Homo sapiens: one gene and its partners. The protein of the gene in region 6 purifies or fractionates together with the protein of the main gene of each other region. This does not show direct contact. Each region holds a gene or a part of one and is shown on either strand. Other genes may lie near its edges.

What was found.
Region 1: the proteins of SLC7A5 (region 6) and HERC3 purify together in Homo sapiens (affinity purification with mass spectrometry; one large-scale study listed by BioGRID and IntAct). This does not show direct contact.
Region 2: the proteins of SLC7A5 (region 6) and FAM234A purify together in Homo sapiens (affinity purification with mass spectrometry; one large-scale study listed by BioGRID and IntAct). This does not show direct contact.
Region 3: the proteins of SLC7A5 (region 6) and PODXL2 purify together in Homo sapiens (affinity purification with mass spectrometry; one large-scale study listed by BioGRID and IntAct). This does not show direct contact.
Region 4: the proteins of SLC7A5 (region 6) and KDSR purify together in Homo sapiens (affinity purification with mass spectrometry; one large-scale study listed by BioGRID and IntAct). This does not show direct contact.
Region 5: the proteins of SLC7A5 (region 6) and CHST11 purify together in Homo sapiens (affinity purification with mass spectrometry; one large-scale study listed by BioGRID and IntAct). This does not show direct contact.
Region 7: the proteins of SLC7A5 (region 6) and LRIG1 purify together in Homo sapiens (affinity purification with mass spectrometry; one large-scale study listed by BioGRID and IntAct). This does not show direct contact.

The regions. Positions count from the first base shown.
Region 1 is NC_000004.12:88,668,313-88,672,674, reverse strand, and holds part of HERC3 (probable E3 ubiquitin-protein ligase HERC3), read right to left. Parts: intron 2,816-4,362; coding exon 2,652-2,815; intron 2,537-2,651; coding exon 2,423-2,536; intron 1-2,422. UniProt on the Homo sapiens protein: E3 ubiquitin-protein ligase which accepts ubiquitin from an E2 ubiquitin-conjugating enzyme in the form of a thioester and then directly transfers the ubiquitin to targeted substrates.
Region 2 is NC_000016.10:258,566-262,927, reverse strand, and holds part of FAM234A (protein FAM234A), read right to left. Parts: intron 3,446-4,362; coding exon 3,329-3,445; intron 2,960-3,328; coding exon 2,768-2,959; intron 1,545-2,767; coding exon 1,414-1,544; intron 836-1,413; coding exon 703-835; intron 505-702; coding exon 375-504; intron 1-374.
Region 3 is NC_000003.12:127,631,640-127,636,001, forward strand, and holds part of PODXL2 (podocalyxin-like protein 2 precursor), read left to right. Parts: intron 1-4,362. UniProt on the Homo sapiens protein: Acts as a ligand for vascular selectins. Mediates rapid rolling of leukocytes over vascular surfaces through high affinity divalent cation-dependent interactions with E-, P- and L-selectins.
Region 4 is NC_000018.10:63,329,207-63,333,568, forward strand, and holds part of KDSR (3-ketodihydrosphingosine reductase), read right to left. Parts: intron 2,696-4,362; coding exon 2,576-2,695; 3' UTR 1-2,575.
Region 5 is NC_000012.12:104,462,983-104,467,344, reverse strand, and holds part of CHST11 (carbohydrate sulfotransferase 11), read right to left. Parts: intron 1-4,362.
Region 6 is NC_000016.10:87,841,814-87,846,175, forward strand, and holds part of SLC7A5 (large neutral amino acids transporter small subunit 1), read right to left. Parts: intron 1-4,362. UniProt on the Homo sapiens protein: The heterodimer with SLC3A2 functions as a sodium-independent, high-affinity transporter that mediates uptake of large neutral amino acids such as phenylalanine, tyrosine, leucine, histidine, methionine, tryptophan, valine, isoleucine and alanine.
Region 7 is NC_000003.12:66,410,499-66,414,860, forward strand, and holds part of LRIG1 (leucine-rich repeats and immunoglobulin-like domains protein 1 isoform 1 precursor), read right to left. Parts: intron 2,517-4,362; coding exon 2,373-2,516; intron 1-2,372. UniProt on the Homo sapiens protein: Acts as a feedback negative regulator of signaling by receptor tyrosine kinases, through a mechanism that involves enhancement of receptor ubiquitination and accelerated intracellular degradation.

The DNA of each region.
Region 1 (4,362 bases), on a different chromosome or scaffold from region 6:
TTAGACCAGAGTAAGGAACTGAACCCAGGTCTTTTTGACTGGAGCATGTGCTCAATAATATACTACACAGCCTCAGCTATTAACAAGCTAAAAATGCCAACACACATCAAAAAAATCCATCTATTATTTAAAAGTAGTTAAACAAAAATAACATATGAAATAGCTTTAGTATTTTAAATTAAACTTCAAAATATCAAGACATTTAAAATTCAATTTCTAATAGCATTGTACCTCATACAATAAAAAAAATTCCACAAAAATCACAAAAGGCCATATACTAATTTCATGTAATTTTCCATATTTCTTTAATAACTATTATAGTTATTGAAGAGATGAGCATCTGTTATTCAAGATCTGATAAGATATTTATCAAATGTTAAAAGAAAGGAAGTTTAAAATATTGTAAAAGTTACTTAAATATCTCTACTCAGAGACTACTGTCATAATAATCTAGATTTTAACATGAGCAACTTCTTTTTCAGAGTAAAAAAGAATTACAATTTGTTAGACTTATTTTATTCAGCATCAAGTCACAGAAAGGGTAGATTAGAAATCAGAAGAATTGACTTTTACTGCTACTAATGAAATTAGTGGAAAAATTGTTTAACTTCCATTTCCTCATCTAGAAACAAAGCAGTTGGACTAAATAATTCATCAGGCTTATTTTTCTGCTCATAATGTTATTATTCAGTGAATAATTATTCATAAATTGATAAAACAGAAGGGCTTATTTTTTAATAATTCCTAAATTTGAAAGTGAAAACAGAGTTCATTACTAGCCTCCATGTTAAATTTCCCAAGTCAGCCCATTTAGAACACTCTAACTCATTTATATTAAAAAGTATTTTCCTGGCCAGGCACAGTGGCTTACCCCTGTAATCCCAGCACTTTGGGAGGCCGAGGCTGGTGAATCACTTGAGCTCATGAGTTCAAGGCCAGCTTGGGAAACATCACAAAACCCCATCTCTACAAAAAATACAAAAATTAGCCAGGCATGATGGCACGCACCTGTAGTCCCAGCTACTCGGGAGGCTGAGGTGGGAGAATGGCTTGAGCCTGGGAAGCAGAGGTTGCAGTGAGCCAAGATGGTGCCACTGCACTCCAGCCTGGGTGATAGAGCCAGACCTTGTCTCAAAAAAAAAGTATTTTGTTTTCTCAGGGTAATCATAAAATCTTATTTAAAAATAAAACATTGTATGCATTTTTTAAGTCTCTAGAGAAAAAAATACAACATTGTGTCTAGCATTCATCATCTATTATTTGACAAAGAAAACAATCCTTCTTGTTCAGTTAGATCAGCCTATTTAAATGTCTTGCTTTTGGAGACAACTGCTGACTTCCAAAAACCCCACAGGAAAAATATTGCCCTAATACTGGTGATGAACCTGCTACACTGGCAAGGACTCACCTCAAATCTGCTGCACATGGCTTCACAAAATACAATAACCAAATTATCATTCTGTTTTCTGACCTAACTCAAATTTGCACATACTCCACAGATGGGAGATCCTAAAGAGCCTTGCATATATCCCAAGCTGGTGTGCTATCAAAAGGAGCAGTTCCTGCCACGCCAGAGGTGGTAGGCAGGAATCCACAGGCCCCTGAATGGCATATCTAAAATACGGTGAGACAGCACTTGGTCAGGGATGTGTGACACTTTCACACACATAATTCTCAATCAGAAGGGGCCTACGGGGTCCAGGTAGCTGACATATGATGACTGGAGTAGGCTGTCAGAAGATGATAATTAGCAAATGACCCTTCCTCAATGTCAGGGATAAATTACGCTGCAGTGGGAATTGTGGCATATACATAAGCCTCATCTAAAGAGTCACTCTTGAACTCCAGCCACTTGGTGTCATATGGGAAGACAGGTCGTGTTGCCAGATCTTCCAAGTTTTGAGGAAAGCTAAAAATTCATATTTGTATGTGTCTTGTTTTTTTAATTATGGTTTAAAAAAAAACCTAACATAACATGTACCATCTTAAGCATTTTTAAGTGTACACTTTCAGCAGTGTTAAGTATAGTCACACTGGTGTACAATTGGATCTCCAAACTTTCTTATCTTGCAAAACTGAAGCTATACTCATTAAATAGCAACTCTCCATTTTCCCCTGCCTCCAGCCCCTAGCAATCACCACTGTACTTTCTGTTTCTGTGGATTTGACTACTTTAGATACTCTGATTTTTTTAAAGGGGGCAACTGATAAAATGTGTAACATTCTGGGTGACTACTCATTTATGACTCCTTATAACATTGATGATTACTTAAAGCACTTCCAAGTTTCTAGAATGCAAAAGGCCAGCTGGATGAAGAATAGGTGACACACTGACATCAAAGTCAAAGACATATTATACAGCTCACATGTGCTTTTCTTATAAAAAGACTAAAGCTTTAAAATATGCTTTATGAATTCTTACCATCCCTGCTTGATGCAAGAACCACATGAGGTAGTCTTCCTGAATGTCCACGAGATTGGAAATCTCAGGAATGTAAAATGTATCATATTCCACATGCTTCACTTTAAGATTTACCTAATGAAGAACAAAATACAGACAACTGAAACATGGCTTCCCAGAGAACATCTCACTAGGACATTTTACCCTACCATCTAATCACCCCCTCCCCACTAGCACCTCCTATGCTCACCTTATATAACTTCTCCAAGAGTTTGAGAGCTGCTGTGATATAATTGTTAAACAGTACGGGAATTAAGAATGTCTTTCTTCCCCTCAGTAGATAAAGGACTGCACCTTTATAGAGGTTTACCAGCTTCATGAAATATTTCGGGCATACCTGAGACCACCAGTTATCTTTAGAAAGAAAGAAAAGACATATTTCAACATGTAATCTTGGGCAAGTATTTATGTCTTCTGCCTGCCAGTTAAAAATTGCTTTGTCTAGAAGATAAACATTAGTCTAAAATACATTTTCCCAAAACTGACTTTAAAAAGAATCCATTAAAACCTTTTTGGGGAGAACAACAGCTGTAAAAGAATCCCTGGAGCTTTTTTTGTAAAGCCTGGTCTGATTTTTTGCAAAGACTCAATCTGAAGGTTAACTTAAAAGTCCAATTCCAGACTACATGTGGACAAGATACACATATTTTGGGCAGGAGTGATGCCCAATGTATTAATCCAAAAAGCATTCTTATGTCCTAGCGCTTTCAGCCATCACTAAATCCTGAAGCAGAAATGCAAAGGATGACGCACCACATACCCTAGAAGCAGCACCAATATGGCAACCATTCCCTTCCCTTTAAGAGGTATCATTAGTTGAAAAACTACGATTTTTACTTCTCACCAAAAAATGCTTTCTCATAACCAGACAAGAAGATATACCACTGGCTTATACTTCGTTGGAAATAAACTCAGCCATACTGAAATACTTAAAGAATGAAATAGTATGTCTGAGATTTCCTTTAAAATACTCCAACAAAAAATAAAAAGGTGGTGAGGGCGAGGGACAGATGAAATAAAATGGGCAAAATACTGACAACTGCTGAATTTGTGTGGTGACTACCTGTAGCATACTCTCTACTTTGGGGTATTCTTTTAAATATCAATAATTAGAAGTTAAAAATAAAGTGTAAAATTGAACAATTATGTTCTCTTTGTATTTTCCAGCCTGGAAAAATAAAAATGAAAAAACTCTAAAACTTGAAAGTCAGGTAAGATTTCTTCTGATATTGCCACCTCTCTGTTTCACATCAACTAGAACACCTGAGAAAATGTGCCCCCAAAAGGCTTTTGATCTTAAAAAAAATTAAGTACTAACATTTACTAGTGCTTTCATTATTATTTCTGTTTTTATCTCTTCTACAAAGGTGGAGGCAATATAGAAAAGCCAGTATTCCACCTTCAGGAACACAATCTCTTTATTCACGGCGAGACCACACTCAAGTAACATCCCAGTCCATCTGGAACACAGAAGTTACTGAGCTGCAATGACACCTAACAAAATTTACCAGGGGGGAAAAAAGTAAAAAGCCAGGTGATAGACTTCCTGCACTTGAGTAATAAAAACATTTCAGGTGCTACTCCCATGAAAGACACTCTCCAAATCACTGAGGAATGGAAGGTTTTTATCTCAGCAAAGTGTCCGGAGCCTGCAAAAATCAGTGTGGACTCAACGGTCCTAAAAAAGAAAAACAAAACAAACATTTGGTAAGTCCACACTAGGTCATTTTCTTCCTCTCCTGTTTTGGAGACCTCTGTATCACCGAAACTGTTCACTTCACTCCCACCCCCTAAATTAGACATAGGAGAAAGACCAACGTACAGTAATACTGAGGTACTGAGCAAATGTGGTAGAAAAAAATAGTTTCAAGTTAAATAAATTAGGTTTGTGAATACTATAA
Region 2 (4,362 bases), about 88 Mb from region 6:
GAATCACTTGAACCCGGGAGGCGGAGGTTGCAGTGAACCGAGATCGCACCACTGCACTCCAGCCTGGGGGACAGGGCAAGACTCCGTCTTAAAAAAAAAAAACAACCAAAAAAAAAAAAAACAGAAAAGAGAAGAAAGACCCCCACTTTCCGTGGAGACAGACAGGCACAGCGTCGGGAACCTTTCTTCTCTTTACTCAACTTTTATTTGACCATTTCTCACATCTGAGCCCAGGGTGACCTTGCGGTACCCCGAGCACCTCCCTGCCGGTGGGGCTGCTCTGGGCTCCACACAGATTGTCCGAACGCTGAGGCAGGCGAGCAGAGCCATGGGGTGGGCGCTCTGCATGGAGAAAGGCTGCGGCCCGGACCCACCTGTGGGAAAGCATCCTGCGGGTGGTGGCATTGAGCATGCTCTCCCAGTGCGGGTCACTCTTGAACGGGCCGCCGCTCCCGGTCACCTTCTCGTAGAGACCCTTCACAGAGCAGCCGCAGAGGGAGCTTGCTATTCAAAACACAGAAGGGCCCGAGGTCACCAGGGTCACGCTGTGAACCCGGACCAGGGGCACGCAGTGCCACATGGAGCCAGGCCCCTGGGCTTCCTGACTCCAGCACCTCGAGAGCAGAAGCAGGACCTGAGGAGCCGCAGGGCAGTCATGCTCCACGAGTGAGGCTGGCCAGGGATGTGGCAGAAACAACGTACCGCAGGGAAAGAGGATGTAGTGGGCACCTGTCCTGGTGACGTGAAGGAGGAAGCCACTTTCCCCGTCCACACCAAGGCTGCCTCTGAGGCCAATCTGGTGCCCGGTGCTGCCGGAGTAGAGGTGGCCACTAACCTGCAATGACACAGGATGACACAGGAAGAGAGGGACCTGAGCCTGGGGCTGCAAGGACACAAGGCCCAGGAAGAGAAGGACCTGAGCCTGGGGCTGCAATGACACAAGGCCCAGGAAGAGAGGGACGTGAGCCTGGGGGCGGGGCACTCTACAATGGGAGATGTGGAAGGGTAAGGGGCCCACAGGCTCTTGGTTTTGAGGAAAGACACGCTGACATCAGAGAGTCTGCCACGATGGTTGGTGCCTCCACACTGCACGGGGCACATGAGGCAGGCAGGGCAGCCCCAGTGCCTCACAGGTGCTCCCAGCCCTCAGAGCTTCACCCCCAACACTGCAACAGCACAAATGGGAAGTGTGTACTCCACCATTCTTGGGGAGGCCCCAAAGCTGCCTGGTAGAGATGGAGCCCCCTGAGTATGCTGGGTCTATGGGAGTTGGGAACGTGGGGCTCTGGGCGAGTCCCCGGCAAGTGGTCAGACCCGAATCCTGTCTGGGAAGTGGCAGCAGATGGGGAGGTAGAGCAGGGCCGTGTGGCAGGTGGCCTCGTGACTTGGGAGCAGAGCCAGGCTGGGATGTACCTCCTCCCGCTCCTGGGTGAGAACCAGCAGGTCTGGGGCCCCATCGCCGTCCACATCAGGCACCTGCAGCAGAGGGCTCAGGATGGACGCATTCCCGCTGAAGCTGCTGCTGTGGTTCCACAGGGTTTCCCCTAGAATCAAGCACACGGTCACGGAACGTGGCCCTGAGTCCCCTTCAACAGCAGCCCGGCAACTGCAAGGCCTGTGACAGGCAGGCTCCTGTTGAGGCATCACCCTCGTGAGCCCACGGCTCACTGCACACTCAGAGCAGATGCCAACAGGAGGGGAGGGCGGCACTCCTGTGCTCGTGAAGGAGCAGCACGCGGAGGTGGTGGACACACGTCCTGCCCGTGTATGGAGACTCGGTGGCAATATGCCAAACGCTGACAGCCTCATTCCTGGGAACCGCAGAGTTCCCCCTTCCTTTTCTCCTATCTGCGTGTCCTGGAACCTCTAGGGCCCATGCTGACCCTCCTGCCCGAGTGGATGAAGCCTGACCTCACCCACCTCTCGAAGCCCCTGCCTCCTGCTGGGGTTGCAGGCGTGCCCTTGGTGCCATGCAGGCCCCAGCTGAGTGGCCCCTTCATCTGCCCTCCACATAGAAGGCAAGAATGGAGGTGTGCGCCCGGAGGCAGATCTACTGACCACAGGTCCTCGTCCAACTCCTTACGCACATACAATCTCATCCAAACCTTTTTTTAAAGACAGATTCCTTGATTCTTAAAATATTTTCAGCCTGCTCTTTATTCTCCTCCATATCCTTAAAATGACAGCTTGTAAGGGAAATATGAACATTCACCAAATCTAGGCACAGAAATCTTCCAGACCGCGATGAGGTGCAAGGAGCCCACACACACACATGGCCCCGTGCACCACGCATTCTTTCCCTCGTCCTTCCACGAGGCCGGCTCCGCTGGGGCTCGGAGACCTGCACCTTCAGGCTTAGGGGCACTGACAGGCCCCGATCTCCCCTGACGGGCCGAGTGCTGGTTCATGTTCTGGGCTCGCCCTGGGCACTGCCACCACTGACACCCCAGGAGCAGCCGGGGGCCAAGCCGCTCCTCCTCTCTGCTACCCCATGGCAGGTGACATCGGACTGCCCCTGTGTGTTACAGCCCACCAGCAAGGTGTAACGGGAGGTAACAGACACAGTGCAGCTGAAGGCAGCCGAGGCGTGTGCCTTCCACACGCTTGCAGCCTCACTTGGAGGTTCTCCCCATAACCTTCCTTCCCATCCAGCCACCCTCAAGATCACAGGGCTGAGCCTCGTCGCGGCCTCCTGGCATTAGCCCTCAGGGTGAGGTGGCTCAGGTGAGAGGCCCTCAGTGAGAACCCCGCTGCCTGGCTGGCCTACCTGTGAACAAGTTGACTGCAATGAAAGAACTGGGTCTGCCCACCAGGATGCAGGCAGAAGGTGCCTCACTGCCTCTTGGCTGGGGCACAGCACACTCCACGAGGGCCACGTCTTGGGCCACAGGTCTCTCCCAGAGCGTGCTGCCGTTGGCCCCCGACACAGCAGCTGCAAAGGTGCAGGGAGAGGAAAAGCCTGTAGGGAGAGACACCGGCACCTCACTGTTGCACCATCTGGGCAGGCAGGCCGGCCAGCCCCAGCATGTGCTGTTCCAGGTCTGTTTTCCTCACACCTCTCCTAGGCCACAGCCCCTCCCGCCAGGTGGATCTCCTGTATCTTGCAGGCTCCCGGGGCTCTAATGCTGACCCCACGGGGCTCAGGGGCCAGGGCAGTGCTGGGACTGGGCTTCCAGGCCTCTTTCTGGTCTGCCAGGAAGGATGACGAGATGGGTTCCAGAAACACCACCATCTGCTTCCCCCAAACACTGAAAGCGAGAGGGTGACCCAAAATGACGATTCCTCTTTCTACAGGGAGCTCCGCCTTTTTCATATAAAATGAAATTACCTTCGTCCACACAGGATCGGCTGAAATTGTTGCTGCTGTTGGTGTTTTTATAAAGAAAAAGAACATCTTGGATCCTGTCCCCGTTTATATCATCCACAGCCAGAAAGTCATAGATAACTGAAAGAGAAAACCACAGACTATACTCCGCGGGCCATGCCTGGTTTCCAGGAACGATCAGGTCCAGCACGACCTACTTCTCTGCTACATGGAACCTGCCACTGTGAGGGCACCCAACGAGGACGGTGGCTTCTTCCTCACTAGGATGAGTAATTTCCTTCGTGAAAACCAGGGGGTGGGCAACAATGCCTAGTGTTAACCTTCAGAAAGGAACAAGCAGGACATCTGGGCATTAAGAATTGGATGTTCTGGCACCTTCTGTTCAGGGATAAATCCCTCCCTAGACCAGGGGGCATCTAGACAGTCCACACTCCATACTCGTCAGGGTTTACACTTCCTTTCATTCAAGGACTCAAGTGATAAACTTTATGCCCTAAAATCAAACACCAAAAGAGTGAAGTTGGCCGGGCAAGGTGCCTCACGCCTGTAATCCCAGCACTTTGGGAGGCCGAGGAGGGCAGATAACGAGGTCAAGAGATTGAGACCATCTTGGCCAACGTGTGAAACCCTGTCTCTACTAAAAATACAAAAAATTAGCTGGGTGTAGTAGCACGTGCCTGTAGTCCCAGCTACTCGGGAGGCTGAGGCACAAGAATCGTTTGAACCCAGGAGGCAGAGGTTGCAGTGAGCGAGATTGCACCACTGCACTCCAGCCTGGCCGACAGAGCTGGAGTCCATCTCAAAAAACAAAAACAAAAAAATAGGCCGGGCCCAGCTGCCCCCTCCGGGAGGTGAGGGGCGCCTCTGCCCGGCCACCCCTACTGGGAAGTGAGGAGCCCCTCTGCCCGGCTACCACCCCGTCTGGGAGGTGTACCCAACAGCTCATTGAGAACGGGCCATGATGACAATGGCGGTTTTGTGGAATAGAAAGGGGAGAAAGGTGGGGAAAAGATTGAGAAATCGGATGGTTGCTGTGT
Region 3 (4,362 bases), on a different chromosome or scaffold from region 6:
TCAATTAAGGCAGATTAATTATTAAGTGCAAAACTAATTATACACAGAATGGCTATGTCTCAGCTACTATTTTGGTGTCATCTTATGGTGGGCAAGTTTGAAAATAAGTAACCTCTTGTAATTACTTAAATAAATACCCATTGCCAAGGCCTTTGAAAATATCAAGTTCTATGTAAAGACAAAACAGTCATTAGAGGGAAAAATAACTTTAAGAAAATGAAACTGTTTACTGGAAAAGGAATGAAAAACCGGGAAAATACCAGATTCCTTTTTCTTCAGTAGGGTTTTCAAAATCTTTGCCAATTCCTATTAGACCATTGGGAAGGGAAGACAAAGAAGGAAAGGGAGAGATGTTAGAGGAAGGTTATGGGTTCCTGGCTTGACAGGTGGGAGAGCTCAGAGAGGTGGGGGCTCACTGGAGCCATGGAAATGACAGGGAAGGGGCCTAGCAAACACACCAGACCACAGTACTGTGCACAGACAGCTGGACTGACTAGAAAGTGTTTTATCCCCCAGAGTGGGGAAGGAAACAGGCTCCTCTGGGCACAATGACCTGGAGAGGGCAGAGCAGTCTTCTTGAGTTCCAAGCCATTCCGAGGAGCCAGAGTAGGGTGTAGACGGCAGCAGCCTCCCCGCCTGCCATGCCACAGCCTCTCCCTGCCATGCCACAGTTCAGCTCCGAGAGAGAGTGCCAAGGTTTGAGAGACAACCCGTGTTTAATCCTTCAGTGGTTTTGTAGAGAGTGAATTTCAAAATTCTTAGGGAGAATCAGTTTACACTTTTCTAACAAGGCTGAAGTAATATCTTTCCCAGCATACCTGCTGGAGGTTGGAGCATGCAGATACAGATCTCCAGTTCATGGCCCTCTCAAAGGCAGGCTGCCCGGGTGCCCCGGGAACCTATACAATGTGTATTATTTAATTATTATAAACATTTTCCATCAGTTGACTTTTTTCTTCCTGGAATGCATGAATGAGTTTTTCCAGATTTGTTTCTTGTATTTTGGCTCCCTGCCAGCCCTGGGGATACTGCTTTTGCAAAGCAGTCTGCTACATCGGCTCATATCCCCTAAAGAACTTAGGGTTCCACTTCCCAAGAGTTTGTAATTTTCCTGAGGGCAAAGCCTGTCTCTTGTTCATCTGTCTCTTGTTGCACCTCCAGGAAGGGCCTAACACACTGTTTGGCACAGAATAGGAGCTCAGGAGTGACTGTATTTTTCTTTGTAATCGAGAGTCTAATAGAAATTTTACCTCTAATAAGAGCACAGCCCACCTGAAACCAAAGTTCAATTATAATTGGATCACATCTGATTGGCAGTACTACATGATTCTGATTCACTTTTCAAAAATTAGAAAATAACTATTAAATAAGTACAGTTTATAGATGAAACATTTCCAAACACAGGGGCCACATGCAAATGTAAATAAAGGGATTCTTGCTTGTGAAACATTGGGAATCACTTTACTAATTTGGTCTTTTTCAAGAGAAGAGATTCCTTCAATTGATTGGATTGGTTGTGGGGACCCTGGGCAGAGTGTTTGGAAAGGGGTATCTTCTAGTTTTTAGCTCTGGCTTCTTTCCCTGGCCCTTAAAGCACATGAAATATTTAAGCTGTTTTACATATTCTCTTCCTTCACGTATCCTTTGGAGGAAGGAAGGTACCCAGCCCCACAAGTAATAGCTTTCCATTCTTCTTCCTGGAGCATCCACAAGATGTTTTTGTGGGGGAGAAACCAGCTAATTTCAGCTCCTCTATTAACTAGCTGTTTGACCTTAATCCCACTAGGCCTCAGTTATTTCATTTGTAAAACAAGAGGGTTGGATTACAAATTTTGTGTGTGTGTGTGTGTGTGTGTGTGTGTGGGAGAAACCAGCTAATTTCAGCTCCTCTATTAACTAGCTGTTTGACCTTAATCCCACCAGGCCTCAGTTATTTCATTTGTAAAACAAGAGGGTTGGATTAGACTACTAATTATTTATTCAAACCTTTATTGTGTCCCCATCATGTGTAAAAGGTTGTGCTAGGCACTGGAATTACAGGGTGGAATTGAAACAAGGGACTCCTCATTTACAATGGAGGCTGTATGAAGGTCTCTTACAATTTGGTGAGAAAAGTGGCGTGACAGTAGTTTGTTGAGAAGGCTGTGATAGAGAGGAGTGGTGTCTCATCCAGACTTGGAGTGGCCACAGAAAGCTTCTCGGAAGCTGAGACTGCAGGCAGGAGTGAGAATTAGCAGGTGGGTGGTGGGACAGGACAGAGATGGGGAGATACGGATGTTCAAGCAGAAGAGCATATGCAAAGACCCAGAAGGCAAAAGAGGCGGCTGTGTTCTGGAAATTGCAGGTAGTCAGTTTGTCTGAAGCGTAGAGTATGATTGGGGAAGGTGGGTGCAGAGAGGGGAGGGGAGGTAATGGTCAGTTTATGAGAGCCTTCTCGCCTTTTCAAAGGATCTGACCTGTATGATAGAATGATAGAACCAGATTTGCATTTTAAAAAGACCTCTCGGCCTGTGCAGTGGCTCACGCCTGTAATCCCAGCACTCTCGGAGGCCAAGGTGGGCAGATCACCTGACGTCAGGAGTTTGAGACCAGCCTGGCCAACATGGCGACACCCCGTCTCTACTAAAAATACAAAATTAGCCGGTCATGGTGGCACATGCCTGTAATCCCTGCTACTCGGGAGGCTGAGGCAGGAGAATCGCTTGAACTCGGGAGGCGAAGGTTGCAGTGAGCTGAGATCACGCCATTGCACTCCAGCCTGGGCAACAAGAGAGAAACTCCATCTCAAAAAAAAAAAAGTTGACTGGGCACAGTGACTCACACCTGTAATCCCGGCACTTTGGGAGGTTGAGGCAGGCAGATCACCTGAGGTCAGGAATTGGAGACTAGCCTGGCCAACATGGTTAAACTCTATCTCTACTAAAAATAAAAAAAAAATTAGCTGGGCGTGGTGGCAGGTGCCTGTAATCCCAGCTACTCGGGAGGCTGAGGCAGGAGAATCGCTTGAACCTGAGAGGCGGAGGTTGCAGTGAGCCAAGAACGCGCCATTGCACTCCAGCCTGGGCGACAAGAGTGAAACTGTCTGAAAAAATAAATAAAAATAAAAAATAAATAAAAAGACCTCTCTGAGCTTTGTCACTCAAAGTGTGGTCCACAGACCAGCAGCATCAGTCACACCTACTGTGTCAGAAGACTCGGGTGACTCACACACATTTCAGTCTGAGAAGCGCTGATTAGAGGGCAGTGTTCGGGACAGATGAGTGCAGGGGGAATTGCTAGGGGTTCGTAAAAGAGCTCTCTTTTTCTTCCAGCGGTGAAGCACTATGAGGACTGTAATTCTAATGGAGGCGTCTCTCATGTCTACACATCTATGTTTCTGTATCGTCTCTGCTGTTTTGCTTTATCGTGAAGTGTGGGGCATTTCGGCCATGTGCCCCCCTGAGTGGCATGGTTGTCTACCCTAGAGAAAGGGAAACTGAACACATGTTCCTGAGATCCCGGTGTTGTTATTTCCTCCAGCCTCCTTTCTCCTTCACAGTGTACTGAGCACAGTTAGTACAGTGCCATGAGCAGTTCTGTTAGTAGCTACCTTTGAGATCTCTCTCCCTGCCCTACTAACCCTGTGGCTCAAACAGAGTTATATGGTCACTGTTACACTATTCCATAATGATTTGTTTTCTTGCTGGTCTCTGTAGTAGAAACTGACCCTTTTGGGGCAGGGACCCTATCTTTCTTATTTCTGTACCAACATAGCCTTGGATCATGCCTAGTCCAAATAAGCATTTAATAAAGGCTTTTTGGTTGAAGAATGAATGAATGGATGGATGAATGAATGGAATTTAACCATTCAAACACTACTCTGATCCAAAAGGAGAACTTGATTTATAATTTGTCTTAATGTATCATTTGGCTATTTCTGTGTAATAAATCACCCCAAAATTTAGTGGTTTCAGATTCTCAGTTCTTAAGATCTGATCCCTGGACAGAAGCATCACCTGGGAACTTGCTAGAAATGCAAATTGTTGGGCCCCGTCACAGACCAGCTGGATTCAGAACTCTAGGGTGGGCTTAACAGTCTCTGTTTTAACAAGCCCTCATGGTGATTCCATGCTGGTTCAAGTTTGAAAGCACTGGATTAAAACGGTAGCCATTTATTTAGCTCATGATTCTGTAGTTTGGCAATTTAGGCTGCAGTCAGCTGGGTGGTTCTGGTCTCAGCTGAACTCCTTCAAGTTTGTCATCAGCTGTTTATCACCTTTGCTGGTCTTGTCTGGCTCTCTCACTTTGGGACTTCAGCTAGGACACTGAGCTGATCTGGCTCTCTTCTGCATGGGCTCCTGTTTTCCTGCAGGCTAGCCTTGA
Region 4 (4,362 bases), on a different chromosome or scaffold from region 6:
TATCCAAAACCCGCTGGGCTGGATGTGTTTCAGAATTCATAATCTTTGGGGTTTTAAAAAGGCAATATGGGCATATTTTGAATATTACAAAACACCTCCACAGCATCTAAGGGAAAACCTATAATCAAATCCATGGATATTTCTTCAGGGAAAATTAAGTCACAATGAAGTAGCATAAATATAAAGTACAATACTCTCACATCAGTTCAAGTCAGATTTTGCTGCCAAATGAATTACGGTATCAAATTTAGAAAAACACAAACCAACTTAGATTTCGAAGTTTCTTTGCTAAGGGACTGTAGCCCTTTAACATCTCTGACAAGGAAATTTCTTCTCTGACATGATGGTCTCTGCAAATCTGCTCTCATATTTCAGTGGAAATTGGGATAGGGACAATTGTCTTCTACCGCAAAACAGGGGCTCTCAACAGGTGCTCTTAAATTTATTCGGGTAGTAGATTACCATCTCACTGGAGGCAACAGGTTCTATGAGGATAATTTGAAAAAATATATTGAAATAACTATTTAATGTTATTAAATCAGACACTTTCTTGGACTAGATTCTAATATAGATCAGCAGTAGAAGGTGCCAACATTCGAGGAACATTTATGAGAAAAGAATAAAACTGAGAAACATCCAGACATTAATGCAATTGTTTTCTGCAAATTATAAAAAGCTATGATTCCATTTTAGCAGCTGCACAACGCAACTCGATATAATCTGCAAACTTTGGCTCTGTAAGACTGAAAGATTTATGAAACCATTCTGGCATCAACCCATCCTTACAAGCTGCAATGAAATCATTCCAAGCAATTTATATATTAAATAATAATTTCTTCTGTATCTATCAGTGTTTAAAATATGCTATTCTCAGATCTTAATAAAAACATGGGTTAAAGCCATAAAACATCTTATTTTTTAAAAAGTTAAGTCATTTAAAGTCAAGAGCTTCAAAAACTCAAGAGCAAAAAAAAGGTATGCTATAATTTTTAGGTCTTCAATTTTTGTATAGAGTTTTTATGTTTTTTAAGTTTTATTTTACAATTTAAGAAAGTTTCCTCTTCAAAAACAGAGGTCTTTTCTCACCGAAGTGATCTGGAATGTGCTACCGTATATGCAAGGAAGACAGGTTACAAGATCAAGGTGAAGGCAGCTCTCCTCAAGTCAGAGGAGTGTGAACAATGAGCAGGATGCAACGGGGAATGTTGGCTAAAACTCATCAGAGGCACTTGCTGTCAAAATCCACTAATGAACACAGATCCTATAACCTGGAAACAACATTCAGGGGCCAAGAGGGTTTCCAGGGCTACAGAGTTAGATGAGTGGGCTTCCTTAGCATGTGGTATAAAAATAATGTCTGCAGGTTCAGTGGGAGAGTCACATAAAGAACAGGTGATCATTTTATTTCAAAAGCAACTCTCTTCAAAATCAGCCTTGTCTTTTTTTCTTAATGAGCAAACTTTATACCATCATCAGCCTTTCCTAAAAGCTACATATATGCTCCGAGAAAAAGTCACACTTTTTAATTTTTTCATTTGCTTTAATTAATTCATGAGTTAAGTTAAAAAGTCAAGTCGAAAATTTTAGCTGGTCTTTTTTTTCCTTTTTTTTTTTTTTTACAAAAATATTACAGCAGTATAAGCAAAATTGGAAAGGAAGAGATGGGAAAAACAAGTAGATGCTAAAATGGGATAGGTGAACTTCAGGTCATCATGGTTATTGAAGGAACTGTAAATTCTTAAGCTTCTAGATTTTACCGCTCTTCAGAAAACATTTAAGGAGGCTGCCTTTCCCCATGAATGAGAAATGAAACGTTCCCTAAGCATTTGAGTCTAAAGACAAGAAAGCATTGCTTTTCCTACTGGAAAATATCTCTTTACTTCCCATTGCACTGCCCTCTCCCGTCCCCCTCGTAGCTTTATGGGATCAAAGAGAGAGAGAAGCCATGAGTTTCCACCAGCAGCAGAGTGAGTCCTGAGCACAACACAGGGCTGTCAGTGACATTCAGACTCACTGGCAATGGGTCCAACTCATCTTGAATAAAATACACAAAGAAAGAAAGAGAGAGAGAGAGAGAGACAGAGAGACAGAGAGACAGAGAGACAGAGAGACAGAGAGACAGAGAGAGAGAGAGAGAGAACCCGAGAAACCGAAAATTGTTTTTTTATGGAAGGTTTAAACAAAGTCCTCAAGATTTCTTTATGTGCCAGAAAGTACATTTCTGGACTTAATCTCTAGGGGGGCAAAAAAGAATAAATAGAAACAAATTTAATGATCATTCTGGAATCCTGTTCTTTACTTTGTTCACACGCTATTAATTCTCATACCTTCACCTCTCTACCACAAAGCCTAGAAAATCAAATGGTCTCCTATTCCATATTTGCATAGTATTAATAATACTGTCAGGAGGTGAACTTCTAGCCCCTTGCTTGCAGCCACATTCCTGAAGAGCACTGGTCCAATCTGACGTATTCGAAAACAATACATAAGTGTCTATAGGCCAAAAATTGGGTCCCATTTAGCAGCAAGCTGTTCAAATTATTTGGAAACAGTCTTCTTCCAAGGGGTAAGAAGATTAGGCAGTTTTGTCTGCATTTTCAGATTTTTCTCTCTGCATCATGCAGCGACGAACTATGCTGTCAAAACTTCCAAGGTAAAACAAAGCAATAGTGCGGAAAAGGCCCATGGTGACCACCTGCAAGATAAAGAGAGAGCTTTTAGTGCATCCAACGGTACAAGACTATTTCAAGGTACCTAGGTCTCTAACAAACAGTTTCTAAGACAAATCTTCTAGTCTGCTCTAAGGATGAATATAATGAAAACTCTGTAAATGTCAGTAAGCTGTGAGAACAGAATGTGTGTGCTCTGCACCGCTGGACAGCCCAGATACATAACAAAATATTTGTCCAATTAATAAATTCAAACCATAAGCAGAATAAAATATATATTGCTTGCAGTCTTAGGGTTATAATAGCTTTAAAAAGACCCACTGCAGCATCTCAAATAGCCAAACTACAATCAAGGCTTTTTTGGTTTGCAATTTATGTTCTGAGCATGAAAGCGAGACCCTATACTAGGTGCTGTGAACACTGTGGTGAGAGACACAGTCCCTGCCCTCAATGAGCTTATTCTCAGGCTGGAAAGACAAGTAAAATTGAAACTACTGCCTCAGGGTTGAGACCCGTGATTACTGATATCCTGTTGCTCAGGATGGAGTGCAGTGGCATGAACGCGGCTCACTATAGCTTTGACCTCCCAAACTCAAAGGATTCTCCTGCCTCATCCTCCCAAGCAGCTGGGACCATAGGCATGAGTCCCCGTGCATAAGAGAATGGAAAAATCAGGCCGGGCGCGGTGGCTCACGCCTGTAATCCCAGCACTTTGGGAGGCCGAGGCGGGTGGATCACGAGGTCAGGAGATTGAGACCATCCTGGCTAACACGGTGAAACCCCATCTCTACTAAAAATACAAAAAAATTATCCGCGTGTGGCGGTGTGCGCCTGTAGTCCAAGCTGCTGGGGAGGCTGAGGCAGGAGAATGGTGTGAACCCAGGAGGCAGAGCGTGCAGTGAGCTGAGATCGTGCCACTGCACTTCAGCCTGGGTGACAGAGCAAGACTCCGTCTCAAAAAAAAAAAAAAAAAAAAAAGAGAATAGAAAAATCCCTTTGTTTTTTTCCCTACACCCTCAGAGCACTGAAGCCAGTCCTTGGATCTTCCGGAAAAAACAATATTTAAGGTGAGACCTGAAGGATTAGAAGTTGGCAGGACACAGAGAAGATTCCAAAAAGAAGAAGATGGGTAAAGAAAGAAAGAAAAAAAAGAGCCTGGAAAGGTACGTGGGGTAGGAGATCAGGTGGTTTATGGCATGCGATGGAAATTTTTTTAATTTTTAAATCCTTTTTAGAGACAGGGTCTTGCTCTGTCACCCAGGCTGGAGTGCAGGAGTATGATCACAGCTCACTGTAGCTTCAGACTTCTGGACTCAAGCAGAAGTCTCCCAGTTGCTAGGAATACAGGTACACACCACCACGCCTGGCTTTCTTTTCTTTTACATTTTTTTGTAGAGACAGGGTCTCACTATGTTGCCCAGGCTGATCTCAAACTCCTGAGCTCAAGCGATCCTCCTGACTTGGCCTCCCAAAGTGCTGAGATTATAGGCATGAGCCACCATACTCAGGTGCAATGGAATTTTTAAAGCTTTATCCTGATGGTATCAAGGAGTCATTGAATGTTTTCATGCAATGTATAGTTGCAGTTTAGAAACAACTGGTGTGGAAAATGTGAGGGTACACTCAAACGCATCCAGGGGGCCTGAGCAGGGGGTTGCAGACCATAGTGGTTGCAGGGACTGTGCTCCTCCCT
Region 5 (4,362 bases), on a different chromosome or scaffold from region 6:
CCCATTTTTTGTTCATCTAGACACCAGACCTTCCATTTTCAGTTAACCTAAAAAAATTTTAACTATATCAAGAATACAAATGGCCACAAACAACTCCATCTAACCTGTCATATCAAATTACATGTCAGTTATGAAACTCAGGCAGGTATCCTCAACCACAAAATGAACTGGAGTGACCACCTCAATAATTCCACCATTCTCAGCATATTTCAATGAATAACCATTTACAACTGAATCATAAGTAAATTTACAGATTATATTATCTACTTTTAACTATCCTATTCCTCACAAAATAGAACTGAGGCCTAAAGAGATCCCAGCCAAGAAACCACAACTTGAAGATAATTGTCACAATCCAGGCACACAAGAAAATGGCATTCCTCCCTCTTGAGTACTAGCTCTCCATTGTATCTTTGTGGACAACATTACAAGGTCAAAAGGATGAAAGAATCAGAATTGATAAAGAGTCAGCCAACGGAATTATCCAACAGATAACGACATAGGGGTTTGCAGTCACTAGTCAGAAAGGATCCTATCCTAGATATGTAGATAATGGTAGTAATATGCAGAAATTATTTATAAACAAAATATATTGAGGGATGGCTGCTCAAATATGTTTTACCAATAGGGTGTGGTGAGTATTGTGATTATTTGCTCATCGTTCATTCTACCCTCCTTCTAGAAAGCTTTCTAGCCTGCAGAGGCTGGTAATTGAAAAGCTGTATTTCCCAGGCTTCTTTGAAGCTAAGGTTCTAGATGTGAATTTGGCTCTCCCAAATAGAAGCACTCACTTGAGATTTAGAAAGCAGATGTGGGGCAGAGAGGCCATCTTCTTGCCTTTGGGGCTGTTTGGCCGCTGGCAAGCATGGAGATGGGGTCACGAGGGTTTTTTGCAACAGCATTATAGGGTCCACTCTCCGGCTTTGCCATCAATTTGTTCTTGAACTCAATAGTTCCAGACACAGTATCAGAGGGTGTAGCACCCCTAGTGAGTCAGTTTTGTTTTTTGTTTTTTGTTTTTTTTGAACAGCCATGCCAACATACGTTTGTTTATTAATTATTATATAAACTACTACCATTAGCTGGGAGACATTCCTGGAGCCCCATTCCTCCAGCCCCCTTATGCCTCTATAAGCACAAAATTCCCTCTAGTAAATATCTTTCTGCTTAAAATACCTAGACTGGTGCTGGACACGGTGGCTTATGCCTGTAATCCTAGCATTTTGGGAGGCCGTGGCGGGCAGATCACCTGAGGTCAGGAGTTCGAGACCAGCCTGGCCAACATGGTGAAACCCTGTCTCTACTAAAAATACAAAAATTGGCTGGGCGTGATGGCGGGCACCTGTAATCCCAGCTACTTAGAAGGCTGAGGCAGGAGAATCGCTTGAACCCAGGAGGCAGAGGAGCCAGACGGTGCCACTACATTCCAGCCTGGGCGACAGAGTGAGACTCTGTCTCAAAAAAAAAAATTAAATTAAATTAAAAAATAAAATATCTAGACTGATTTCTATTTCCTGCCCTGAAACACAGCAGAACAGAAGCAAAGAGATTTGGGAGACAAAGGGACTAGACCACAGCAGATGCTGTTTGTACATGACAATCCAACCTGGCTCCTCCTTCTGAGTTCTGCGCACATGGATTGGGTGGTGACCGAGGTGGAAAGGCTTATCTTTGAGAATCAATTATTTACTCTTTAAATGTTTCCTAGGCACCTCTGGGCCAGGGTCAGAGGCTATAAAGATGAACCTGACAGAATCCATGCCTTGCTATGTCAAAAGAGGAAGATGTACAAAAAAACAAACAACCACAGTACATTTCTAAAAGGGCCAGAAAAGAGAAATGACAAAGTCATGACAGCTCAGTAGCCTTGAAAGAAACAAAAATCCACATTGGTGATACTTTCCCTGGGCAATGTTTATGTCTATTTCTAGATGAACTTCCAGGTTCAAGCCTCAAGTTAAATCACTTACTTCCCACCCTCCCCATTCTAACTCTTAACCAACCTCATCGTTAATCAGACAAATACTAACTACAAGCCCTGGGCTCTGAAAATAAGTGCCAGGCAAAGTTAAAAAGACTTGGACAGACTGCATGCCAGTCTGGCCATTGAGAAGCAAGTACTCAAGACTAACCAGGTACTTTTGAGCCCTCAGACTCTGCATCTTGGAGGAATGCCATTTTTCATCACTTACTGAGGTTATGAAGTGTGCCACAGTTTACATAAAGTACTTTCACAATTTACAGAGGTGGCCTCAGAAGGCATCCATGGTGAAGGCACACTGCTATTTGATGGAACACTAAGAAACGAAACAGTTGCTCGTTAAAGGGCAGCACGGTGCTGAGATGCCATCAATCACAACACAAATTGCATAATCACTAAAATGTGAAAAAAATATGTTCTGGAATCAATAATACACAATAATTTATGGGGATAGGACATGGGAGACCCCAGACTAGGACTCGGGTCTTCCACTCCCAGAGCGCTGATCCATTTCATCGTTTTATTTTTATTGAGTGCTGATTTAAGTCTGGCACTTTTTCTGGATATTTTTATTAACAAATGCCACCGATTGCACCCTGAAGATATTACGAATTTCCCACTACAAGCTCAGTCAAAATTTTTCTCAAATCTCTTTTTCAGATCTCTTCATTACTGCTTTAAAAATTGGAAATGGGACTGGGTGTGTGGCACACCTGTAAGTCCCAGCTGCTTGGGAGGCTGATGATGTAGGAGGATCCCTTGAGCCCAGGAGTTCGAGGATGCAGTGAGCCGTGATCTCACCACTACACTCCAACCTGGGCAATAGAGCAAGGCCCTGTTTTTAAAAATAAAGATAAATTTTAAAAAATTGAAAAAGGAGATGGTCTAGTTGGGGGTCAAGGGGGAGCAGGTGGTAGAGGGGAGATGGGACTTATATGGTGACCACTTAACCAAAGTACACTACCGGCTGCCCAAAGATGAGCACAAATGTGCAAGTAGAGCTGGGCACAGTGACTCACACCTCTACCAGCACTTTGGGAGGCCGAGGAGGGTGGATCACTTAAGGTCAGGAGTTCAAGACCAGCTTGGCCAACATGGCAAAACCCAGTATCTATTAAAAATGCAAAAATTAGCCAGGTGTGGTGGTGCATGCCTGTAATCCCAGCTACTCAGGAGGCTGAGGCAGGAGAATTGCTTGGGCCCAGGAGGCAGAGGTTGCAGTGAGCCCAGATTGCACCACTGCACTCCAGCCTAGGTGACAGAGCAAGACTCCACCTCAAAAAAAAAAAAAAAAAAGTGCAAGTAGGAGACTTCATTTTCAATCTTGCTACATTGCTTCCACCCTTATTCCTTGCCTCCCTGCCCCAAGAGACCTCTGCTCAAGCTTCTGCAGCGCTTCCCTCCCATCTACAGTTAAACCCAAGGCTCAAAACAATTGTCTCTCTCCGACTTGTCTCTCCCCACTGTGGTTGTTGGCTGCCTCCGTCCCTCTGCTCTGGGCACTCTGACCACCTTGCCATGCGTGTTCTTGCCTCAGGGACCAGATTTGACTTGTGTTGCTCTCTGCCTGGAACATGGCCGGCTCCTTCATTTCCTGCAGGTGTCTGCTCTCAGTGTCATCTTATCAATGACATTCCCTAATTACCTCTATATTATATTGCAACCCCTGCCTCTCACACCCCTCAACCATCTTCTCTGTTTTGTTTTTCTCTTAACACCATCTGATATACCATATATGTCACTTCTGCATTTGCTTAAAGTCTGTCCGCCCCACTAGAATCTAAGTTCCATGAAGGCAGAGATGTATGTATGTGTTACATCTCCAGTGCCAAGAACAGTATCTGGCACAGAGTAGAAGAAAGGAAAAGAGAGAGAGACAGACAGACAGGGGGCTGGGGAGGAGGAGAACAAGTCTGCTTGTAAGTTTCAATCACTCACATTGGATCTAAGATGCATCAAATTACAAGTTCTAGGAAATTTTAACTGACAGATCAGATTGTTCATAGGAAGAACTGCCTCCCCTTTTATTTGTTATAAAGGTGGTGTCCCAAAAATTCAAAAGAAAAACTAAAAAGAAAAAAAAATGAATCAGCAGAATGACTTCTGGTTTTCCTCAGAGTCTGAACTTAGAAGAGGCCTGCTGGCAATGACTTTCATGAGAGCCTTTTTCACTTGACCTCCAGACTAAAGAGAGGTCCTTTTGGTGGGTTTAAGAAGGGAAAGGGTGGTGCCTTTGCTTATGAGCCTTTGACTTCCTGTTTTGAAATGACTGTGCTGATAAAGCTATGAACAAAATGATCTTTCAACCAGACAAATACTGACAGCAGATACCTCTGCTGAAGGATGGATTCCCTCACCCCTCACCCCACGGAAACCCCCAA
Region 6 (4,362 bases):
GACTGCTCCACCCTATTCCAGAAGGACCTCATTTCAAAACTTGAACTTCAGTCACATCTGCGAAGACCCTTTTTCCAAATAAGGCCACCAGCATTCACAGGTTCCCCAGGAGGACATGTCTTTTGGGGGAAGGGGTGTCTCCGGAAGGTCACGTGGCTGCTGGGACAGCACTGGCCCTTTCTGTGGCTGTTGCCTCCTCTGTGAAATGGGCCTGGTGTGTTCGAGCCCGGAATATATTGCCCAGACATCAGTCTCACAGACCACTGCGCTTCAGGAAGGAGAACTTGGAAAGAAGACCAAAGACACCACCGGAACAAAGGAGCCGGGTCCCCTCCTGCCTACCTGCCAGGTGCATATACAGCTGGAGGCACAAGTGGAAATCTTGGTCAGGCTGTGGACTGTTAGTTCATTAGAGAACCGTGTGTGACAGTATCCTTCCTGCTGGAAAGTCACCAGCCCGTCTCACAGGGCCAGGCAGGGACGGGCCCTGGGGCTGCTGTGTCCCAACATGTGGCCTTGGACCACAGGTCACCATGGGGGCCCAAGAAGGGGAACCACCTTGGTGGTCCAGGGAACACCGCAGAGTGACGAGGTGAGCAAATTTCAAAGGGGACCCGTGAAGGGAGGTTCCCATAAGACCTTGGCAATTACCCCAAACAAAGTGCGCACTTCAAAGGTGGCACCAGATTTCCTACGGCAGAGCCCACGGTGGGGTCCCTTCCTGATGGGTGGACCCAGTTCCTGTTTTGCACCTGCTTCCCCGTGGCGTGCTGGATGCCTGCGGCTCTGCCTCCAGCTCTGTCTGTCCCAGATGCCAGGTGTGCTGGGGCCTTTGATCTTCAGCCTACACTGGGGGTGCTGGTGGGTTCCCTGAGGGCTGCCCGCCACCCTGCCCTGCTGAGGCCTTGATCTCCTGAGAAGGAGCTCCAGGGCCCACTGCCTGCGTGTGATGTATTCTGGTCACCAGGTGGTCAGCAGGCGGAGCTTGACTCTGCAGGCCTGGAGCGGGGGCAGCTCAGAGCAGCTCAGGACAGGGCACTTTGCACAGCACCTCGGCACAGCCCCTCTGGCCTCTCTCCCATCTGCTCTCTGATGGAATGTTCTGGAATGTGCAGACCCTTCACATCTGCATAGCCCTACTGTGTCTCGCCCACTTACTTCTGCTGGGGGGAGCATCTGTCCTACAAGTGGGGGAATGCAGACCTGCCAGGCTGCTTGAGAATCAAGGTCCTGCCTCCCCCATCTGGCACTCATGGTGGGAGGGGGTGAAGGTGAGCCCTGGAGGCCAGAAACACGTGCCCCATTCACTGTGACCACCCCCGGACTCAGCCTGAGCTGATGGACAGGAGGCCTCAGTCCAAGGTCCCCGCCAGACACATCAATCCTCATAGCTGACCTCCAGCCTCATGACAGAAAGGCGGCTGATCCTACACAGAGGGTGGCTGCTTTTGCTAAGGACAATATACCGAGGCTTGACATGGTATGAGGTCTTCAGTCAGGAGCCAGATATTGGCAGCCCTAAGGCCTGAGTAACTTTTTTTTTTTTTTTTTTTTTTTTTTTTTTTTTTTTTTTGAGACAGAGTTCCACCACGCTTGGCTAATTTTTGTATTTTTAGTAGAGATGGGGTTTCACCATGTTGGCCAGGCTGGTCCAGCTCTGCTTAAGGGTGGCCTGGAGGGCTGCAGGAGGGACCTGCTTGCAGCCCAGGGCAGCTGGACACAGGGAGGTCACCACACTCATCCAGTGACTCCACGCTACACACAGGGGAGAGACACACCAGAGGTGGGAGTTAGACAGCGTTCAAACCCTGGGGGCAGCACCCCTGTACCTCTCAGCATGACCAGCGGGCATTCTGCACACCGGGAGACCTGGGCTGTCACGACGGCGGGGTGCGGCGCTACTGGCACGGAGCAGGAGGCCGGGGATGCTGCTGGATGTCCTGCAATGCACGGGACACCCCCACACAACAGAGAGCCCACGGTGGCAGAGGTGCCAGGCTGAGGCCCTGTGCAAGAAGACCATGACAAGGCATCAGCCACGAGCCTCTACCCCTGCCGGGAGGACAGGACCAGCTCCTCTCAGCTTTCTCTCCCATGGACCCTAGACTCGGGCGTGGTCCTGGCTTCGACATGAAGCCCCAGGCACTGGGCAGGACTGGAAGGAATGGCTGAGCGGCCCACTCATCCAGCAGCCACCCAGCCTCCACACCTGACAGTCTGCTATCCAGTCAGCCTCCACCCACAAGGAGGGGACAGCGTGACAGGGAAGTGAGGAAGAGAATCACCGTGGACAGACGGTGACATCTGCCAGAGCCCACAGAGACGCGAGAACAGACTCAGCGCAGAGCCTGAGTGGGGCCCTCCAGCCCCTTCCTTGTCCCTAAGAGGCATCTTCCTCAGGGGCTGGTGGAGCTGCCATGAAAGCAAACGCACAGCCAAACCCCGGGTGGGGGGAAGGCAAACTGCAAACGCCGCGGCGACCCCGGCACAGCAGCCCTGTCAGCAGGATTCCCCCGAGAGCGGGGTAATTGCGGTGGGAACGAGCGCTCCAAAGGCCCTGGGGAGATGATTTCAGGGAAAAGTGGCCTTGATCCCTGAGTCAGGCAGATGCGGCCATGGGAACCATCCACCCCGAGGCTGGAGGGGAGACTCCGCCGGTGGCTAAAGCCATCCTGCTGACGGGGCCCAGGGACGCCCCCAGTGGCCAAACGCACGTGGGAACGGGATCTTCCCCCTCCTCTGTGATGCGGCCAACCCTCCAAGCCTCTGGCTCCTGACTCAGAGGACGATGTCTCCCCATGAACGCAGTGTCCCTGGAGAGAAGAGCCTGCCCAGCGTGGGGAACATGGGAATGTGGAGATGGAGGGCATCCCGGAACCTCAGGGCTGACGGGCCCCTGCCCCAGCCCTGGAAACACCTCAGGGACAAGAGAGTCACTCCTCAAGCGCGGACTTTCCACTGTGCTGGGGCCTTCCGCCTTCCAACCACTCTGGCCCCTTGGGGCTCTAGGTGGAGTGTGCTGAACAGTGTCCCCAAAATTCACGTCCAGTGGAGCTGCGGGATGTGTCCTAGCTGCAAATGCGGTCTCCGCAGGTGCAATTAGCGAAGGACCTTGAGATGAGATCATCCCGGATTAGAGTAGGCACTAAGGCCGACGACAAGTGTCCTCAGCGACACAGAGACAGATCCAGGGGAGACAGAGCCAGAGCCAGCCCAGGATGCCTGGAGCCACGGGCAGCTGGAAGGGGAAGGTGGCACCTTGGGTCTGGACCTCTGGCTGCCAGGACCAGGACCGTCTGCATGTCTGTTGCTAAAGCCAGTCTGTAGGCATCTGTCACCACACATGAGGGGCCAACCGTGCCACCCAGGGGAGACCTCCCGGCTTCTCAGTGCATCAGGCATGGTCAGGGGCAGGACAGCTGCAGCTCACACCCCACTTCTCAGTCACCAGCCGAGTGCACAGCCAATGGCACCTCATCTAAGAGGGGGCTGTGAGTCCCATGTGGTCAGCACCCTGGAGCTAGCTGCCCTGTGGGCTCAGGGAAGTCGTGCAGTGACCGCCACATGGGTTCAGTCCAGAGCCCAGGCCAGAGTCCATGCCCACCCCACAGAGTCCACGCCCACCCCAGAGTCCATGCCCACTCCAGGCAGAGTCCACGCCCACCCCACAGAGTCCACGCCCACCCCAGAGTCCATGCCCACTCCAGGCAGAGTCCACGCCCACCCCACGGAGTCCACGCCCACCCTAGGCCACGGCGCCGCTTTTCAGATGCCTGTTTCGCTCTGGCCATCTAATGCCTGGGAACCGTGATGGGGCAGGAATTTGGGTTTGGGGGTTCTGGCGGCAACCAGATGGCACTTTTGGACCACCAGCAGTGTCTGTCGGTCTTGGAAACTCATGAAGGAGTGGGCCCTTTGCTTAGAGCTGCCAACCTCACACCAGAAGTAAAAGCTTTTTCCAACTCCACAGGCGGGGAAAGACCCTGAGAACTGTCCCCAGCACAGGGCTGTGGCTGCCCTGGCCTCTGTCCATGCGTCTGACGAAGGGCACCGGGAGGTGAAGGCCGCGGGAAAACAAGCCCCGCTCCCGTCCTTTGATTCTGTCCCAGCACACGGCACCGGCAGAGCCCCAGCTTCCCCAGCCTGTCATCCTCCCGAGGCCGACGGCACAGAAGAATGGCAGGCCCAGGACACACTGAGCTCCCAGAGCAAGCGGCGGGTCAAGCATCCTTTATCAACTGCGAGGTCTTCGAGGCCCAAAAGAGGTGCCCTGAGTCGCGAAGTACCCACCCTTGGGGCAGCCAACGCCGCAGCCCTGGCTCCAGGCCCAGGTTGTCCGGAGTGGAGCCACACTCGAGCCTG
Region 7 (4,362 bases), on a different chromosome or scaffold from region 6:
TTCATAGGGCAAGAGGGAGCTTCCTAGAAGTGACTTTTTTGGCTGAGTAAAAGTGAACCAGGGCTGGGTGTGGCGGCTTATGCCCATCCAGTACTTGGGGAGGCCGAAGAAGGAGGATCGCTTGAGCTCGGGAGTTCGAGACCAGCAAGGGCAATATAGCGAAACCCCATCTCTACCAAAAACAAAACAAAAAGTGACCCAGGCCAACAAACGGGCACAGGAGTTCCAGGCAAGGGCAAAGCCCATTAAAGGAATAGAAAGGAGAGCGAATAGGAGGCGGCTCTTATTATCACCCGCATCTCACACATGAGGAATGTGCTGCTGAGAGAAGCCAGGTAACCTGTCTAAGACTTTACACAGCTTAGCCAGTAGGGAAGGGGCTAGAATTAATTCAACCCTGGGTCTGCCTACCAAAGGCTGGACTCTGTGCCACTGTGCTAGGAGACCCGCTTTAGCTCTGGCGTCAGACTACCTGGATTTAAATCCTAATTTTGCAGCTTGCTGGCTGAATAAACCTGCACATCTACTAACATGGAGATATCCAAGAGCACTGACTCCATGGGGTCACTATAAGAAGGAAACAAGGGTACATCAGGATTCAGTGCAGCTCTAGGCCTGAGCTCTCAGGCCCACCGTGTAAGTGTGCTAGCACCCCGCTTCCCAACACAGCATGTGCCAGGAAGGACAGCGCCAGCCCAGGCAACCGCCTCTTCAACAAAAGTCCGTAACCCGAATTTTGCTCCGTGTTCAGTATTACAAGGGCTTTGGGTAACTGAGTTTTGCTTTTTTCCATCTTTCTTTCTGCTACTGCTCAAAAGGTAAGCACTTAATGTATAAATAACCTCTAAGGCAGCTCATCAGTCTCAATTTATACAAATCTGTTCAACATAAAAACCAAATGGTAGGTGCTAACTCCATTTTCCTCTGAGAATTCTCTTTTAACTTCAGTCCACCCAGCACATGACCACCTTGGACTTCCAAGTCCAAAATGACATGCCTAAGGAGGTCAAGTGAAACGTTTTTGAATATGTAAAACAAAGGGTGGAGAATGGGTAGAGCAAGAAGCCCAGCGGCAGGAAACATCCTCACTGTTCACAGAGTAGGGAGGGCTGGTCATGCAGAGACGGTTATCAGAGTGACACAGCACAACATGTGGATGGACCTGGGCCTAGCTCGTTTCCACTGCCAAGAAAACCAGTAAAGGACATTCGAGTCATGATATAATTTGCCCAGACTGGAAGAAGAAGGGGCGGACATGAGCAAGTTAAATCATTGACTCTCAAGGAGGAAATCGCAAGTGGATAAGTAAAGACAGTGGTGTCAGTCTATCAACTTGGAAGGAACAACCAGCAAAGCTAAAAACAGAAAAACGAAAAAGAGAAAGGCTTAGAAGTGCTTGCCTCTTGGGAGAAGAACTGGGGTGAAGAGAGAATGAGGGGGTGGTGGCGGGGGAGGCTGGGGTGGGCAGTGATGGCTTTTCTTTACTATCTGATTTTATTTAACTATACAGTCAAATTACTTTTGATTAAAAATAAATATTAACGTTTAAAAAGGCTTTCAACGTTTAAAAAGCCTTTTCTGTATGCTGCCCTGCTGTTTCACGTTACCGTGCAGGCAAGCCCCTTCTGCTGCTGTACACATCTGGCTGAAGAGACTGCTCCCTTGATAAAACTTAAACATCTGCACCCAGTGTCTTGATTAGCTCACAAGACAGAAATAAACCTCCTAAGATGAGCTCTACATTTTTGGCCCACCTGCACCTCAGGAAAGACTGTCAAACCCAGAAGGGGAGAGAAGGAACTTCCTGTGGTCAGGAGTGGAGAGGATGTGAGGAGGGGTCTGTTCCGCAGCCCCACGTTCACCGAAGAAGCAGGGGCGGGGGCAGTGGATGCAAGCTGTGGAAAGCAGTCCTGGCAGAATGGCCCCCAAACTCCATCTCCATCAACCAACTTATCTGACTCAATCCGCTGAAACTTCCCCCAAGTGGATTTCAGTGGATGTCCCAATCTGCTAGGAAAATACCCTCAGGTTTGGCCCGGTCCCCAAGACAATGAGTTGGGCCCAGGTGAAGCTGCAAAGGGAAGGGGGCTGGGTCCGGCTGAAGTCTTGAAGAATCCTTCAGGAGAGAGGGGCTGGGCACTGGTGCCCCACTCCATGCCCAGTGCACAGCTGAATGCTGGTGTGGGCGCGCACGTGCACACGCGCACGCACACACACCCCACACCACACAGCAATGCTGGTGTGGGCGCACACACCCAACACACAGCAACGTTGGTGTTGGTGCGCACATGCATGCGCACACACACACACGCCACATCACACCACACCGCACAGCAATCCTTAGCAATGCCAGTAACCTGGTCCGCACTTACAGCACATGCATCTTGGACAGTCCCCAGAAGGCCCCATCTGTCAGTTTGCTGATGTTGTTTCGCTGAAGCTTCAGCACCTCCAAGCTGTTGAGCCCCTGGAAGGTGAGGCCCTCTATCAGCCGAATCCTGTTCCGATTGAGGTCCCTAAAGAGATGAAGCCAGCAGGGTCAGAGTGTCTTATGTGCATATCCCACCCACAACCATTCTGAAGCAGTCCTGGCTAAGTTTCCAAGCCAGAGGAGAAATCCCAGTGCAGGGATCCCTGGGAAGCCAGGATGTGTAGGGGAGCCCACCATGTGTCTCGGCTGCCATGCAGGCACTGATGCTGCCACCTGACCACACCTAGTGCAGGCAAGAGGGGTGAGTGAGGCCAGCTCTCCACAGCCAGCTCCGAGGCTGGCCCACAGCTGCACAGAAGAGAACGCGTGTGTGCTCACGTCTCCTCCCCCAGTAGCACCAGTGCCATTTGTGACTCTGCAGTGAGGACGTGGGTATGACTCAAGGGGTGAATGTCTTATGTGAGGTATCTCTGAGCTCAGCAACAGAAATCCACACCACATGCCTCAACCCAGGAAAAACCAAACCACTATGTATCAAATGGCAATAACACTTTCCACTGGGGGCATTTCACAGCATCTCCACTATGGAGAGAAGTTACTGCACATGGGGGCAGGGGGAGATGGGGTAGAGACACCCCACAAGTCATATACACTTGGCTTCTAGCCCCAGTATGACAAAGCCTCAGTTCACCAAAAGATGTCAGGAATCTGGGTGGGCCAGATCCATTAGCACCCCTGCGGGAAGGGGAGGCAGAGCAGCCAGAAAGCCCTTGGTTTTCCCCAAATATTTCTGCAGTGTCTCATGATGCTGCCCCACACAAACCTTCTCAGGAATCACTGAGACCTTCTCCACAGACTGAAAATGGCAAAGTCTAGGACTCCCCACCCAGGGGAGGTGAAACCCAGGTAGGATGAGAGCCAGGCACACCCCGTCGTGCCGCCAACCTGGCCCTCGACAATTATTTTGTTTTGTTGAAACAAAATTTCCAATACTGTCTTATTTTCCTGAAATACATTCTTCTGCTAAAAAGAGGGCACAGGAAAAAAAAAAATCAGGGAAAAAAAGTCCTTCGTCAGGCTCTGGTTAACAGAGCTTTACTTGAATCTAAAACTCTGCCTTCTAGAAGGGTACTCAGCCTTCCATCAGTAAACTAAACAATTAAATTGTTTACAAAAATAATAAATCGGCCGGGTGCGGTGGCTCATGCCTGTAATCCCAGCACTTTGGGAGGCCAAGGCAGGCGGATCACGAGGTCAGGAGATCGAGACCATCCTGGGTAACAAGGTGAAACCCCATCTCTACTAAAAATACAAAAAATTAGCCAGGCATGGTGGTGGGTGCCTGTAGTCCCAGCTGCTCTGGAGGCTGAGGCAGGAGAATGGTGTGAACCCCGGGGGCGGAGCTTGCAGTGAGCTGAGATCACACCACTGCACCCCACCTGGGGGACAGAGCGAGACTGTCGCAAAAAAAAATAATAATAAATAAATAAATAATAATAATAATAAATCAACTACCTTGTAAGATTAAAGATATGAAGACAAAGGCTTGTCTTTTGCTTACTAACTCCAGCTACACTAACTTCCTCTCAAACTGTTCAAGAAGTGTCGGACACCACCATGTCCAAGGTACAGATTTTACGGGTATCTTAAAAAAATACAGAAAAACATCTAAGATAAATAAGAACCCAAACCCATGCAGCCTCAGCATTAGCCAGCATCAGCTAAGCAGCAGGACTCCTGATTCCATTTTGGAAAACATCAGGGAAGAAAAGCGACCTCAGTGGATGTCTTTCTCAGCAACCTGAAGCAGCCACAGCACCAGACCCAGCTCCGAATTTGCTTTTATGAGGTGCTGCCATTAATGGTAATTTATGGAGAGCTTTACCAAATGGAGCAAGGAAAGGGTGGCGTTTGGTACGAGGTCCTTGGGG